Homo sapiens: one gene and its partners. The protein of the gene in region 1 interacts with the protein of each later gene in a pairwise test. Each region holds a gene or a part of one and is shown in the gene's direction. Other genes may lie near its edges.

What was found. Proteins that work in one complex are often made in the same cells at the same time.
Region 2: the proteins of SH3GLB1 (region 1) and SYP interact in binary tests that used the Homo sapiens proteins (3 or more experiments, as listed by UniProt).
Region 3: the proteins of SH3GLB1 (region 1) and DHRS1 interact in binary tests that used the Homo sapiens proteins (3 or more experiments, as listed by UniProt).

Annotation. Positions count from the first base shown.
Region 1 is NC_000001.11:86,742,533-86,748,866, forward strand, and holds the end of SH3GLB1 (endophilin-B1), read left to right. Parts: intron 1-595; coding exon 596-703; 3' UTR 704-5,652; downstream 5,653-6,334. UniProt on the Homo sapiens protein: May be required for normal outer mitochondrial membrane dynamics. Required for coatomer-mediated retrograde transport in certain cells. May recruit other proteins to membranes with high curvature. May promote membrane fusion.
Region 2 is NC_000023.11:49,187,271-49,190,374, reverse strand, and holds the end of SYP (synaptophysin), read left to right. Parts: intron 1-1,092; 3' UTR 1,093-2,560; downstream 2,561-3,104.
Region 3 is NC_000014.9:24,296,737-24,304,206, reverse strand, and holds the start of DHRS1 (dehydrogenase/reductase SDR family member 1), read left to right. Parts: upstream 1-4,426; 5' UTR 4,427-4,626; exon of another isoform or gene 4,627-5,076; 5' UTR 5,077-5,100; coding exon 5,101-5,250; exon of another isoform or gene 5,251-5,593; intron 5,594-7,325; coding exon 7,326-7,469; intron 7,470-7,470. Other genes in the region: NOP9 (nucleolar protein 9), read right to left, coding at 1-166, 350-475, 993-1,133, 1,783-1,975, 2,101-2,242, 2,485-2,637, 3,350-3,799, 4,006-4,252. UniProt on the Homo sapiens protein: NADPH-dependent oxidoreductase which catalyzes the reduction of steroids (estrone, androstene-3,17-dione and cortisone) as well as prostaglandin E1, isatin and xenobiotics in vitro. May have a role in steroid and/or xenobiotic metabolism.

The DNA of each region.
Region 1 (6,334 bases):
TGGTTTCATAGATTACAGATAGTTATATTAACATAAAATTTTAATTAATATTCTTTAATAGAATATCATAGAAATATTTAAAACTTTTAACTGCCAAATAACTTGAAGATGTATAAAACTCCCTCCAATAAGATCCTTTATCTAGGCCAGACATGGTGGCTTACACCTGTAATCTCAGCACTTTTGGGAGGCCAAGGCAGTGGGATCACTTGAGGCCAGGAGTTCAAGACCAGCCTGGGCAACATAGCGACACCTCATCTCTACAAAAAATATGAAAAATTAGCTGGGCATGGTGGTGTGCGCCTGTAGTCCCAGCTACTCAGGAGGCTAAGGTGGGAGGATCGTTTGAACACGAAAGGTCAAGGCTGCAGTGAGCCGTGATCATGCTGCTGCACTACAGCCTGGGCAACAGAGTGAGACCCTGCCTCAAAAAACTAATAATAATAAATAAATCCTTTGTTTTTCAGCACAATTGATAATAACGTTTAAAGTCCTTTTGGTGAATAATTTAAACAAATTAAATACAAATCTGATTGGTTTTCTACTTGTTTATTTTTTTAATGTAGTTAATAACTGGAAGTATTTTATTTTGCAGGTGATCACTGTGTTCAGTGTTGTTGGAATGGATTCAGACTGGCTAATGGGGGAAAGGGGAAACCAGAAGGGCAAGGTGCCAATTACCTACTTAGAACTGCTCAATTAAGTAGGTGGACTATGGAAAGGTTGCCCATCATGACTTTGTATTTATATACAATTAACTCTAAATAAAGCAGGTTAAGTATCTTCCATGTTAATGTGTTAAGAGACTGAAAATACCAGCCATCAGAAACTGGCCTTTCTGCCAATAAAGTTGCATGGTAAATATTTCATTACAGAATTTATGTTAGAGCTTTCATGCCAAGAATGTTTTCTTACAAAATTCTCTTTTTATTGAGGTTTCACTAATAAGCAGCTTCTACTTTTGAGCCTCAACTTAAAGCAGAACTGTTTTCTACTGGATTTTTCATTAACAGCAAGCTTTTTCTTTTATGTAAAATAAATCTATTGTGAATTGATATCAGCGACTCATTTATTAGGTATAAATAATAGCCAAAGAATAAAATTAAAATTTATTTTAAACTTTCGGTCTTAAAAAGAGCTGTAGGATATAAACCTCTTTTGTGAAAAGTAGAATTTTCTGAATGCTTTCATAGACAAAAACGCATTTAAACTATGTTTACCTGGTTTTCCAACAGAAATCAAATGATTTTAATATTATGTTTTGATGGGTTATTTTCAGAGTTGTTTGGTTTTTTAAACACTACTGAATGGTTTCTTTTAAATTTAAGAACAACTAGTTCTTGAAAAGCAATACCGTATTTCTCTGATAAATTTGTAGTTAAGGTTCTAGAAAATCTAGGACAAATTTACTTCATTAAACATAAAGTTTTTAAGATTATTCAGTTGGCACAATTTAATGCATAATTGGGATTGGATCCATTTACTGTACTGTGGTACAGTAAAGAGAATGTGTTCTTATTGAACAGCAGATTTGTATACAAATACGGAATAATGCAACTACATTATAAATTGTATACGAACAAAATAAATTGGGTCACTCTGAGCTTACTATTAAAACATTGAAAATTTATTAATGAACACAGGCTATCTTGATGAGGATCTCTGCTTATGAAACACATACTAATGAAATTATTAGTGACACATTGGAAGCTAGAAAATTGCTGTTGGGGCCATTGCTATAAATCATTGTTTCCATGTTAAGACTTCTGTTCTAATTCATTCATTCAACAAACATTTGTTGAGGGCCAGATACTGTGCTGGTCAACTGGGGATACTGTCCTGAACAATATGCACACAGTTCTTGCCCCTGCAGAGCTTAAAGACCATTAAAGGATACAGAAAATTAAGCAATTATCCTATAGTAGGATTCGTGGTGTGATGGGGAAAATACAAGGTACTGTATTTGGGAGTCATGTAACTCCAGTTTTGGGAGTGAGAGAGGGTCTGGGGAAGAACTGTTCCAGATAAAAAGATGTGTAACCAAGATAGCATAGCACATTCTGACAACTAAAGCAATTTACTCTAACTTAAGCATGAAGTACAAAAGTATAGTTCATTTATTGAGGGAATGTTAAGCTATTAAAATGATACTTTTTGGTACTTTTAAAAAAATGAATACTTAAACACCGTTTTAAAATTTTGTGTTAAGAGCTCCTAATAAGAACTTGGTAAACATGTTGACAATTTAACTCACAGTCTAAACTTTAAAAGTAGTAGTTACCCTTTTATTTCTGTGCCATGAGACAAATTCTTCTGCAGTTTTATAGTTGTACAAGATGTTTTGACTCACTCTCAATTGCCATATTCTTAAAGAAACCCTGAAAAGCTGCTCAAGCTGGTCAGTTTTCTGTAAAACCAAGTAAATGAAATTTTCTCTCCCCTCAGAAAGGAAGTTCTACAGCCTAGAGTACCATCTATTGTGTTTTATAAGTCCAGATTTAGGCTTTGAAAGATCATACCAAAACTTCAGATCGACTTAAACAGCAACTATGAATTAGGTTTATGGGAAATGTAGTAATACAGGGGAAAGAATATCGGTAATGGAGTGAAATGGTCCTGGGTTCAAATCCAGTCTTCCTCACATATTGTGCTCTTTAAGCTTCAAATGAGATGTATAACTGCCTTTTCCTTACCAGTAAAATGAGGACAATAATTATGACACCATAGGGTGGTTGTGAGGATTAGCAAATGTTATCTTGTATTTCAGGTGCCTTTCAGGGAAAGGCTTGGCACATAGTAAACACATCCTGTAAATATCAGTTTCCCCTTGTTAGCCCCTGTAGCATCCTGACCTACCAAGTCTATAGGCCTTGCATATCACTGTGCACCAGAGATACCTCTTTTACATCTGGGCTCTGTTTTCTCTCTATCAATCCTATCCTCCACCCTCTTTAAATCAGACCCCAGGTTTAACCTTCCCACAGTCAGTATAAATCATTTTTCAGAACTTTCAGCTTTCCATCAAGTGAAAGTTGATTTTAGTTACCCAGTAATGTACAGAAACCTTCAATAATGTTAAGCTTCAAAGGCTTCTGGTACGTTTGTCTACCACAGAACCACCACAATATATATGCTTGTTCTTAGGTTTATTGCTTTTTATTTTAATGGGGTTTGGTTGTTTGGGTTTTATTTTGGTTTTGGCTTATTTTAAAGTCAAGTTTAGTTTTTACTCAGGTAAAGGCCTGAAGTTTCTTGGGCGTGGAAGAAAAAGCTTGGGAAGCCTATTAATTCATGGTGCAGTTCAGAATTGTTTAAATAAGCTCTGTGCCACTGAGCTTAATCTGAAAGTATAGTGACATGTGAAGGATGCACATATGAATGAAAAACTAAAATAATTGTAGGCTCTTCTATAAATGAAAAAAAAAGTGATTGGATTGTGTCTACCTTTTTCCTCAAAGTAATCTAACCTAAACGGTCATGGTGTTAAAACTTTTTATGGTGCTAATCAGAAAAATTGATGTTGCAAGAAATGAGGTCTCAAAAATGGGAATGTGCCTCCTCACTCTGCGTCACATGGGAAATAAATCCTGAGGCCAGGATCACCAGTGGGGTAGAGTCATCTTCATAGTCTCCTGTTATCCTCCCCCTGAACAAAGAACAAAGTGAGACTGGGAAGCTAGTGTTGGGGAAACATTTCTGGGATAAACTGTGGAGTGGAGAAGACAATGGAGGGCAAGGCAAAAACCCACAGACTTGTTTACCCATAGAGGCCCCACTCACCTCCATGCTGACAGAATTCCAGAAAAATTCCTTCCCTATCTCCCAAACACCTGAAATTCTGAAATATTGCCCTACTATTTAGCACTTTAAGCTTCAGTGAGGTGCTGTAATGGAGAGATAGCTTCATAGTTTAGCCTATAGCCAACTTTGCCTCAAGACCTCCAGATAAGATGAAGTGGCTTTTACCTCATGTGAGTCTCAAACGCTGGAGAGAGAGTTCCACAACCACCCCTGCCCTTTCTCCCATATTACGCTCATTAGAAAGTCTACTCAGGGCTGGGTGCCGTGGCTCATGCCTGTAATCCCAGCACTTTGGAGGCTGAGGCGGGTGGATCATCTGAGGTCAGGAGTTCGAGACCAGCCTGGCCAACATGGGGAAACCCTGTCTCTACTGAAAATATAAAAATTAGCCGGGCATGGTGGCGTGCACCTGTAATTCCAGCTACTCGGGAGGCTGAGGCAGGAGAATCACTTGAACCCCAGAGGCAGAGGCTACAGTGAGCCAAGATTGCACCACTGCACTCCAACCTGGGTGATAGAATAAGACTCTTGTCTCAAGGAAAGAAAAAATGTCTACTCAGTAGAGCAGTGATTGGCAAAGTGTGAGACCCCAGACCGGCAATATTGGCATCTCCTGGAGACTTGTTTAAAATGCTGATTACTATTTTCAAGAACTTTCTACCTTCATTTTTACTTATTTTTTGTTTTCAAGGGCTCATGGAATCAGTCTTCCATGTGACAGCTTTTTAAATATTTTAAGACAAAAACTGAGTCTTCTAATCTTAATTGTGTTCTAGCAGTAGTCATTGTAATTATAGTTATTTTTATAATTTATTTGTTTAGTGTATATCTGTCACTCTAGAATGTAGGCTCCCTGAGATAAAAACTATAATTCTTTTGATGGCAGTTACATTCCCAACTCTTAGCACAAGATCTAGGACATAGTATGAACTCAATAAATTTTTGTTGAATGAAAGAAAAATGCAAATTTATAAGCCTTTTCAGAGACCTACTGAATCAAACTCTGAGAGTGGAGCCCAGCAATCTGTTGTAAAAGCTGTTTGAGTAATACTGTTGCACTCTAAGCTTGAGAACCACTGCAATAGAACTAAGAGAACATTCATTTCACCTTCAGGCCTATTCTCTGACATCACTTGAAAAATCCTCTCTGCCTTCTGTAACCCTTAACCAACAACAGTGCCCTGTCCATGTAGGGGAAACTTCTGGGCTGTATTACAAGTGGGTAGGAAGGTATAAGGATATCATAGTGGGAAGTATTGCTTAGAATGCCAGTACTTGTTTGCTGTGGAAGGTTTCTAGGAATGGATTGCTTAGTCTAAAGTAAGCACTACCACCATCCACGTTTTCACTCAACACAGTGCCTTTTAATTGGTGACTAACATCAAAACACCTTGACAAACCGTTAAAACAGTATCAGAAACCATGTGTACATCCCTGTGCCTCTTAGATTGCTAAGTTCTGCTCTCATTCTTACTTCAAAGGACACTTTTTAAAGAATTGTTAATGCTTTTTTATAATACAAGTCATAGCCCTGTTGGCAAAAAGAAAAAAGATTCAGTGAGAAAGAAAAATCACTGATAATTCCATCATCCAGGGAGAACCACTGTTATTTAAGTATATGGCCTTCCAGACTTTTCTGTGCATTTATAGATATTTTTAATGGGATCAAAGTGTACATACTGTTTTGTAACTTTTTTTCACTCAACAATACCATGACTGTCTTGCTGTGTCAAGTATATTTCTACATCTCTTAATGGCTGCATGATATTCCATCATATGTGCCACATTTTATTAAACTACTGTTCAATTTTTAGGTTTCCAACTTTCATTAATAAAGTGCTTTAAAGAACATTGTGTTGCTAAATCTCGTATGTGTTCATATTTTCTCACGATAAATGCTTTGAAGTGGAATTGCTAGTGAAGAGGGTATGCCAGTTTTTAAAAGCTTTTGTTACTGCCATGTTGCCCCCTAGAAAACTCTAAGCAATTTATACTTTTATCAGCAGTATATGAGAGAATACTGTTTCTTTTGGAGGGCTTCCAACTAGAATGTTCTTGGAGTCTTTGGTTTAAAAATAAAGGGTAAGAGGGAGATAAAAAGATCCTGCAAAATTAAAGTCCAGTCTTAAATGTTTCTTAAATTATGACATTCATTTACTGTTCTTCCCTCTTTATCATATATTTTGTATTACTTTGGAAATGTTTGTAGTACTAGTTGCCTCTTGCTTTTATTCAGTCTCCTGGAAGCATTATTACCTTTCTGACATTTGCAAAGACAGTAGAAGAACAATCTTAAGTAGACTTGAATCTTGAGGTATCTTTGATGCAGGTGTACTGTTGATGGATTTAGGGAATGTAGCCGTAGTGGGGAAAGTAGGATTTTGGAAGGTAGGCAGAACAGTGGCTCTCCCACTTGTTTTCCTGGCCTTTTGTCAGTCATTAAACCTCTCCCACTTTGAGCCTGCTTACTCATCTCTAGAATTAGAATACTATAAACCTACCTTGTAGCATTGAAAGGATTAACCATATTATG
Region 2 (3,104 bases), on another chromosome or scaffold:
AACCCCGTCTCTACTAAACATATAAAAATTAGCCGGGCATGGTGGCGCACGTCTGTAGTTCCAGCTACTCTGGAGGCTGAGGCAGGAGAATCGCTTGAATCTGGGAGGCGGAGGTTCCAGTGAGTCGAGATTGCGCCACTGCACTCCAGCCTGGGCAACAGAGCGAGACTCTGTCTCAAAACAAAAAAAAAAAGAAAAAGAGAAGTGAGATTTCCCTCAGATAGGAGGGAGGATATAGGGGAGGAAAGGCAGGAGGAAAAGGCTAAGGGGTGGCTAAAAAGTGGGGGAAGGCAAGAAGGTGGCAATACTTGGATGGAGGTAGCTTCTGACACTGGGTTAGCCAGGATGGAAAGGGCATCCCACATCTAATTCATCAAAAAATCCTGTGGGTCCTACCTTCAAAAAATATATCCTTCATCTTCCACTGTCATCTCTCCCAGACCTCTTCTCAGGTCTCCATTTCCATTCTGTTCTACTCACAGCATCTGGAGGGATTCTGTTAAATCCTAAATTAGGCCACAGTCCTCCTGTGTCAGAACTCTGCCCTGTCGCAGGCTGGGCGTGGTAGCTCACGCCTGTAATCCTAGCACTTTAGGAATGCTAGACTTGAACTCCTGGGCTCAGGTGATCCTCCCACCTCAGCCTCCCAAGTAGCTGAGACTATAAGTGTGAGCGACCATGCCCAGCTCACTTTATTTTTTCCATTTCACTTATTATTGTCACCCTATGTTATACGAGATAATCCACTCATGCATCATGTTCGCTGTGTGAAGTCTATCTCTGCTTCAGTATAAGCTCCACAAAGACAGGGATCTTTGTTTTGCTCAATATAGTTTATCACAAATGGCTAGAACAGTACCTGTTAAGGGACTATTTTTTTGGTTGGAGGAAGGAGACTGTAATCTCTTTGGTACCTAACCCAGTGGGGGCAAGGTCAGGTATATCTTCTCAGCAGAGGCAGCTGGGATGAAGCTGGCTCCAGGAAAGAAGAAAAGACATAAAGCCAGGACAAAGGCATAACAGCCCAACCCCTATCTGAGGGCGCCACCCATGTCAGACCCCCTCTCCTTTCTGTGTCTTTTGTCTCTACAGGTCAGTGAAGCCCAGGAGGACCTGGGGGGGGCAAGAGCTCAGGAGAAGGCCTGCCCCCCTTCCCACCCCTATACCCTAGGTCTCCACCCCTCAAGCCAGGAGACCCTGTCTTTGCTGTTTATATATATATATATTATATATAAATATCTATTTATCTGTCTGAGCCCTGCCCTCACTCCACTCCCCTCATCCACTAGGTGCCCAGTCTTGAGTGGGCCCCCTCTCTTACCCCGTCCCTTTCCCTGCATCCCTTGGCCCCTCTCTGTTTACCCTCCCTGTCCCCTGAGGTTAAGGGGATCTAAAAGGAGGACAGGGAGGGAACAGACCTCGGCTGTGTGGGGAGGGTGGGCGTGACTTCAGACTCTCTCCTCTCTCTCCCTCCACTCCTCCCAACTCTGGCCTTGGTTCCTCCAGCAATGCCTGCCTGAACAAAGGCCGTTAGGGAAATCCAACTCCAGGGTTAAAGAAAGGCAGAGATTGGGGGGGCTTGGGGTAGAGAGGACAGTTTAGGACCCAAGGTGGTCTTGGAGAGGAGGTGTGGAGTGGAGGGGTCAGCAGGGGGGTTGGGTTCCAGACAGAGTGGATCTGGAGTCTGAAGGAGAGGAGTGCGCTAGAGCATTCTGGGGTGGGGCTTGGAAGGGCGCTGAGGGCAGGGTTCTAGAAGGGGCGAGGCTTTAAGCGAGGCAGAATGGTGGGCTCCAGAGTAGGTGGGTCTTGGATTGGTACCAGAGCCTATGGAAAGGGTGTGGCTTGGAACATTTGGGAGACTGAGCTTGATTCTAAAGGGGACAGATCTTGAGCAAGGCAAGAAGTGGGATTCAGGAATGGGCCAAGCCAGGGTTCCAGACAGGGTGGGGCTTAGAATGGGGCTTCCATGGTGGTTTCAGAAAGGGCAGCCCCTCCCCATGGTGCAGTGAAGAAAATGTTTTACAATGGCTGGGTTTGGGCAGTGGAGAGGGGACTTGGATAGGAGCTTCCAGATGGGTTTTGTTAGGGGTGGGGGAGAATGGCTCTGGCTACGACTTGGGACGGAAGTGGCCTGAGAAGAGTCGAGTGATATGGCTTGTAGGGTGAGGCGTGGGATCCAGAGAGAAGCACCCCACCACACACACCCTTCCCCACTCCCGTGATGAAACAGCTAGGTTAATAGGAGGACAGAACCAACGGGTCTGTGGGACTGGCCCACCCCTCTTCCCCCTTCCCCTGCGCCCTCCCTCCCTCCACACCTCCACCCGTCCTGGGGTGGTTGGAGGCCTGGTCTGGAGCCCCTATCCTGCACCCTCTGCTATGTCTGTGATGTCAGTAGTGCCTGTGATCGTGTGTTGCCATTTTGTCTGGCTGTGGCCCCTCCTTCTCCCCTCCAGACCCCTACCCTTTCCCAAACCCTTCGGTATTGTTCAAAGAACCCCCCTCCCCAAGGAAGAACAAATATGATTCTCCTCTCCCAAATAAACTCCTTAACCACCTAGTCTACCCGGCTCTGATTTCTCAGTGTGTCTTTTTCGGGCGCCGGGGAGGAGGTTGGCCGGGGGAGAAAGGAGGGAGAGGTGGTGAGAACAAGCTCCACCCGGACCCACCGACCGCAGTTCAGCTTGCTGCACCATTTCAGGCCCCTTCAAAAGTGTTAGGCAGAGCAGCATCCTCTGGGAAGCCTCTCCTGCCAATCACTCTGTCACTCTCTGAGTAGCCCTGCTCACCCTCCCACTACTGGCCACCAAATGCCCGGTCTTTCTAGGAGTTGGTTCTAATTCTGGTCCCTTAGCCAAGCCTCTTCCGAGCCCCTGTGGAACCCTCTCCTCAAATCCCCAAGGGGTCCGAATAGGAGGAAACCTCACATTGCCTGACCCCATCCCTAATCTTCAGACCCTACTGTCTCTCCTTTCCCTGCCTCCGCCCAGGCTGGAGAAATGGGAGACAGGTTAGGCAAGGAGGGGAGGTGGGGCGCCGGGGTGACTCCTTAGTTCATTAGTTATTCTCTTTTACCTCTCCACTCCACGGGAAGTGACAGGGAC
Region 3 (7,470 bases), on another chromosome or scaffold:
CATGAGAGCCAGCGGGACTTTGGGCAAGGGACAGAAGCTGTGGTCCCGTCAAGGCACCCAGACTTCGAAGTACAAGACCAGGAGTGGAGAAGTGCAGCAGATGCTGGAGCAGTAGAGACCCAAGGACTGTCACATCCCCCAAGGCTCTGGCTGCGGCCATTGCCACCTGGCAGCGCAGAGATAAGAAATTAGGAGGCACCAACAAGCCAGGTGGATGAGCCCATCCCCAGAACACTGCCACCTCCACCTGGATGAAGTCACCACTCTCACCTCAGAAGTCAGACGCTTGCTAAACCCTGGGAGGCCTGACTCCCAATTAGTCACTGGCTTGGCCTCTCCCCTACCTCACCTGGTGCTCTGCAGGCACTGCCCCCTCCTCCTCCGTCAGTCCATAGTACACCTCATAAGCCATCAAAGTGGCAAAGAGAGGCACACAGGCCACTTGCCGGGATGAGGGCTCTGCACAGTGGAATGCCTAAAGGAGAAGACAGAATATGATGAACCTGAGAACTTCTCCGTCCCTTACCTCAACTTTAAGGGAACACCTTCAGGAAAGGAAAGAAGGCCCAACTCCACAAGAATGTTAGCTCCATGAAAGCAGATGTCATGCCTTGCTGTATCCCCAGCCTCTATCACATACAGGGGTTAATAAATGTTTATCCCTTAAATAAACTTCTCTCTTAGTTCTGGGAGACAATTTTTGTTCCAGGACTGTGAAATAACATTTGGCCTCAGCCGGGCACGGTGAGCTGAGATTGCGCCACTGCACTCCAGCCTGGGCAACAAGAGCAAAACTCCGTCTCAAAAAAAAAAAAAAAAATTAGCTGGGTATGGTGGCGGGCACCTATAGGCCTCATTTTCCCCCATTCCTGTGAACTCCTTGGGCATTAGACTTCCTGAGTCCAGAGGTACAAAAACTTAAGATTAGATAAGTCCTAAAAGGTAGAAGTTGAACTGAGGGCATAAACAGATTGTGGGTAATATCCACTCACCTCCAACAAGAGCTGTAGGACCTTGGCTTGGTAGGCCCCAACTCTGCGACAGGCCCCCACCAGGGCAATGACTACCCCTGGGTGGCCCTGGGCCAATACAGCTTCCAAGACAGGGCTCAGCTCCTCAAACACAGGGGACAGCTGATGGGAAACATGGAATGTAACTCTGGCATTCTGGTAATGGCGGACCACATTATTCAGAGAAATCTTCCCAACGAAAACAACTAAAAATGCTAGATAAAACATAAAAAGCATTGCCAGTATCAGGACTTTTGTTTGGCTAGATAAGGCCCAGGATAAGGGGGCAGTCTTAGAGGTGCCACCTCACAGGAAGGAACTTTAAGTGGCTCTTCCCTATGTGTAAGGGAGCACTAGGAGCAAGGGGAGACTAAAATTAAACTGCACTTCCACTCTAACACCCAATGCATGAGACCACAGGGAAGCCCACCTTAGTCCTAAGCAGCAAAGGAAAAGAGAAGCTATGGCAACAGCTCTAGCACTCATGTGGGCTTATAGCCAAGTACCAGAGTCTGGGTGGGCCATGGAACCTCAAGCTGTAAACCTGAATAAAGCCAGTTTCTTGCTGGTCCTCATACCTGAGAGAAGTCAAAACAAATCCTCACTAGAAGGTGGGCACCTTTATCCTAAGCTCTGGAAAACCTCAAAGAATAGCTTTTCAAGGGCAATGGCCAGCACAATGTCAAAGGTATATAGAGGCAGACAGACCATAAAATAAGGTCCAGTGATCAAGAATTAGCAGAAACAGATCCAGCTCAGGTTTCCAACTCACCAGCTCAGGGGTAGTGACTGCATCCAGTAAGCGCTGCAAAGGGAAGTTGGCAATGGGATGTGCAGCCAGGGTCTGCAGCTGCCCCTGCAAGTGCTCCTCAAAGAGGCTCTGGAGTCTTGGGGGCTCCAACACCAGCAGGACCTGCTCCAGGAGTCTGGAACTCGTCTGATCTCGGAGAAATAGCAGTAGGGGACTAGGGACAAGAAGGGCATCAGGCAGTCTTAACTCCATTTCATGCAAAATACAGTTGCACTACATCACCTCATTCATTTCACACAGCCCCGCCAACTTGGGTCGATCCTGAGGCCCTGACCATACCTGCCATCTACTGAGGAACCGCGAGTACTCAGGTAGCCAATCACAGCATTGCAGAGATGAGCGCAAAACTGGGGAAGTTTGCGGTGTAAAACCTGTAAAGCCACTTGAAGACAGAAGCTGGAGATCTTATCAGTGATAAACACTGTGGAGAGAGGGCAGAAATAAAGCGGCTTTCCCAAAATCCAGACAACCTGCGTAACCTCAAACTTTAGGCAACAAGATACAGGGCACTATGGACACAAAGGGACTATACAAAGTGCTCTGAACGTCAAACCAGACCAGGTTTGAAAAGAAGAGGAATAACCTGAGGTAAGGGCCTTGCTTGGTGGTAAGATGACCTCCAGACAAGTAGATACGAGACCATCCTCCTACTTCCCTCCTTACCTGCAATGTCCTTCAGAAAGGAGGAGCTCAGGTCCTGAAGGCGATTCAAAAAGGTTTCAGGGACTTCAAAATCAGCTGGCTTACATTCCTGAGCTGGGGTCTTCTGTGCTTCTGAAGGAAGATTAAGAACATGTGCAGTGGGGAGATCACAAACTGCCATCCAGGAGAGAAAAATTTCACAGATGAACAAGGATTCCGCTTGGAGATGCAGAACAGATGTAGTACAACTAAATGTCTCTTCTGGATGACTGAACTGAGACTACATTTCTGTCTTAATTTTTCTAAGAAACTTCAACCAGCTTCCCCATGGTCCACAGAAGACAGTTCAACCTCCTCAGCCAGGTATTCAAGCCATTCCAAAATAAAGCCTCATTTAAACTCGCTAACTTTATTTCCTAGTTTTTCAAAATGTGGATCACAGCTCAAGACTGTACCATGAAATCAAGTTAGTGGTCTCAACTAGCATTTTTTTTAAATGAAATAGAGCAGAATAGTTTTGAAAAGGAAAAAAAAATAACAGAGTGGGCTGCATGTAGTAAGGGTATAGTTTCCTGAACTTTTGCTTGAGTCCAGTGTGTATGTTACTTTTGCTTAAGTCCATTTGTATATTAAGTCATGCTTAAAAAAAATTCTCCTCCTGCGTCCATTCTAATAGCCTTCCCCAAACACAACTGTACATCCCTACCTCTGGGCCTCCGCACACACTAATCTTTGGCTTGCTAAGCCCTGTTCAGATTAGGACAGGTCAAGCTAATTCTTCCCGGTCAAGCTCCCCCATGAAGACTTACTCTTCTGTTTACTGTCTCATTCTGAACTTTCTAAATTCTTCTTCCCCCTAGGTCCACTTTCCTCTTGTAATACTTACCAGATGATTGGGAACCACGGGGCCTGGCTCTCTCAGACTCCAGAATAGTCCCTCCTAACACCTGAAGCAGAGTTCTGACCACGAAGCTGCCATGTGTGTCTCCACAGTAGACAAGAAAATCATCACACACCTCAGCGGCTAGTCCCAGGACCAGCTCCTCCAGGGTCTCCGTGGGACCATCCTTTCCATCCTCCTCCTCCTCCTCCTCCTCCTCTGCAGCACTCCCCAGCAATCGAGGGAGCTGTAGCAAAGCACTTTGTAATACATGGACCCCGCATCGGTGACAGGCCACAGTGCGCAAGTTAGAGCGCAGAGCAGCCCACACGCGACAAAGCGGTTTCAAGGGACTGAATCCCAACAGTTCCTGCAGCATCTCACTGCCAGTCCTGTTCGTGGACAAAGCTAGGGCCTGAGTCTCTACTTCCTTCATTATATTGTGCACCATCAGATCTGAAAAGGGAAGAAAGACACACTTTGAAGAGACTTAGTAGAGAATACAGTTATGTACCCTCGCTTAACCAAGGGTCGTGGGTCGGAGGCCGAGGAAGAGGACATGGGAAATGAAACTAAGTCCCCACGCCCTGCCGACCCTAGAAAGTTTCCTTGCCTGCCCTGGATTTGATGCTCTTGGTCTAAACCCCGAAGTTGCTGCCTACCTCGTTCTTCCCCAGTCTCGGGAGCCTCTTTCAATGCTGACAGCGCCCGGCGGAAATATCCCAGAGCTTCCGGGCTCAGGTGCGGGTGCGAATCTGGAGCCGGCTCCGAGCGCCCATCCGGAGGCGGCCAGGGTTGCCGCTTACGGCCTGGTAAGGGGCGCCCCGACCCCTTGGCCCCGCGCCCCCGTTTGCCACCAGCTGGGAACCGGCGCCCCACCTTGTGTGGAGAGCGCGGACCCTGCCCCATGTGTGCTTCGCGACCTGTCCGGCTGCAAAAGCTTCCTTAACTGCGGACGGACCTTCGACGTCGCCAAGCGTGCGCCTTATCCAGACAAAGTTTAGAAACGCGGGCGCGCTCCTGACGCAGCTACTACGTCATAGTTCCGCGCCGCCCCAGCCGGGCGGGGTGGGTGTGTCACCCAGATCGCTCCGCCCCCATCCGCAGGTTCTAACTTTGGCCTGGGACTCTGCCCCTCTACCTCAGCACAGAATCGCCCCGGGTCCTACTACAGAATCAATCCTTGAACACTGCCTCCACGTCGCCGGCTCAATCTGGGCGAGAACCCAGACTTCCACCGCAGCCCCGCAATCTGCAGACCTCAGCGGCAGCGCAGGTGGCAGGTAAGCGGCGCACGCTCGTCCCACTTAGGGCTTAGGATCTCCAGGCTTCGCGCTCATCCCCGGCCCGGAAGCTGCGCCTCTGGCTCAGCCGGACTGGGTCAGGCCAGGGACCGGAGCTTCAGATAGCCCAGGACTCTGCGTGGACGCGCCCCGAGGGGCTGCCGCGCCAGATTCCCATATCCAGGCAGCCACACTCAGAGGGTTGTAGTAGTTGTCCACCTCTGGACAGTCCCACTCAGCCCCTTCTTCACTCTCTGGGCCTCCCAAAAGACAGTCAGCCTTGTCCTCAGGCCCGCACCCAGTTGTCAGCCTCTGACTCCTCTCCCCTCAAAGGATTCTTACCTTGGCTCCTCCTCTTAGCCCTAGTGAGGTTCTCCCCTACCCCCCAACCTCGCCCCAACACACACACAGTCTCCAGGCTTCCCTCAGAGTAAGTCTTTGCTTCCACAGACCTGCCTCCTTTGCCTGTGAGTCATGGCAGCTCCCATGAATGGCCAAGTGTGTGTGGTGACTGGTGCCTCCAGGGGTATTGGCCGTGGCATTGCCTTGCAGCTCTGCAAAGCAGGCGCCACAGTTTACATCACTGGCCGCCATCTGGACACCCTTCGCGTTGTTGCTCAGGAGGTGAGTGCTTCCTCTGGGACCACAGTTGCAGAAACCACCCGAGAGAGCCCTTCCACTTAACAGCTCCTTTCCTAATCCCTTACCTGAAACTATAATACTACTCAACAAGATGTGAATATTTATTCAAAGTGGAAATTAAAAACCCCGTAAATAACTTCAGGTAAGGTAGAATTTTGCCGCCAAGTGAGTTTTATGAAAAAACTTTGTGTTTGAGCCAGGCATGGTGGCACGTTCCTGCAGTCCCAGCAGCTACTCCGGAGGCTGAGGCAGGAGGATCGCTTGAGCCTAGGAGTTGAGCCATGATCACACCACTGCACTCCAGTCTAGACGACACAGCGAGACACTGTATTAAAAAAAAGAAAAGAAAGAAAAGTAAAAAACTTTTTGTTTGAGAGCAGAGATTTTGGAATTGCAACTAAAGGGTTGTGGACCTGTGCTTTCCTCTATTTCAGGCAAGACTTTATTGAACTGCACATTTTTTACTTATTTACTAGACTTCAGTTAAATAAATATTTGAGTATCCATGATTTGCTAGGCATTGGTAAACCACTGAAGTTACCAAGACTAATAAAATCTAATTTCTGCTCTTCAAAGATTCAGTCCATGGTGGAGTACAGTGGCTCATGCCTGTAGTCCCAGCACTTTGGGTGGCCAAGGCAGCAAGATCACTTGAGGCCAGCAGTTGGAGACCAGTCTGGGCAACATAGCTAGACCCAGTCTCTACAAAAAATATTTTTTAAATAATTAGCTAGGCACAGTGGCCTGCACCTGTAGTACCATCTACTTGGGAGGCTGAGGCAGGAGGATCGTTTGAGCCCAGGAGTTCGAGGTTGCAGTGAGCTATGATTGCACCACTGCACTCCAGCCTGGTGACAGTGAGACCCTGTCTCTAAAAAAAAAAATTTTAATTAAAAATGAAGATAGATTCCAACAGGAAGTCAGGTACAGAAAGCAGTCACTTCAATGTAATGTGAATATGGTAAATTATAAGAGGGAGATATGCACAGAATACTCTAGGGGTGTTGGGGAGCATCCAGATGACATAGGAGAGTGGCTAGGGAAAGTGGTTTGGGAAAGCGTCCTGGAGGAGGTAGGTGGTTCTTGAACTGAGTTTTGAAAGGTAAGAATTAGGTAAAGGAAGTTAGGAAAAGCATTCCAGCAGAGGGAGCTCCATAAGCATAGGGACGCTGTGTGAAAGAGTAGATGTGTGAGATAATGCAAGGGAAGAGTAGTGAGTGAGAGGCTGGAGAGGAAAGAGTGGGTCTTGGAAGACCCTAATAGAGAACTCAGGCTTCATCCTCTAAGAGATGGAGATCCAGTTAGGAGATTTTGAACAGGGTTTGTGTTTTAGATAGGTCGTACTGGCTGGATTATGAAGAATTAATTTAAGGCAGACAGACTGGAGGTCAGGTGAGTCGTTGGGAGGCATTGCAGTAGTTCAGGCAAGGAGGGTAATAGGCGGGGACCCAGAGCATAAATTTGGAGAATAGGAGGATTGTTCTTAGATAAAGGACTCTTCTTCCTCTGAAGTTGGAGGTTTGTGGGCATTTGTAGAGAGTGAGACAGAACAGGAAGTAGAAATCATTCATGGCTGATAGCTTTGGTTTTTTCAATTACCAACCAGGAGCATTGGTGGAGTGAGGGTAAGACAACTGGGACTGAGTAGAGGTTTTAGGTGAGTAGTGTAGGGTGGGAGCTAAGGGCATGAGAGATGGAAATGACCACAACAAGGAAAAGGATGCTTACTCATTTCTCAAGAGCAGACTCCATGCCTCACTTGTTCTTACCCTCTACTTGCAAAGTACAATGCTGTGCACATGGTGGGCCTCAGTAAATGTTTGTAGATTATTAAAACTTACATTGCAATTCACCTTGCTCTGTGGTGGGGAGGCCTATCATTCCTGAAACTACTCAAACAGACACCAGAGGGCAGCGTTGCCTGCCATGTTGCCTCTGCAGCAGGCTCTCCTAGGATTGATTGTCTTCTCAGTTCTCAAGCCCACTTTGGTTGGGGAGTTTTGTCATGACTCACACCCATGTGTGAATGTGAGCTCATATCCCCTGTCCTACTCCAGGCACAATCCCTCGGGGGCCAATGTGTGCCTGTGGTGTGCGATTCAAGCCAGGAGAGTGAAGTGCGAAGCCTGTTTGAGCAAGTGGATCGGGAACAGCAAGGGCGTCTAGATGTGCTGGTCAACAATGCTTATGCAGGGGTCCAGG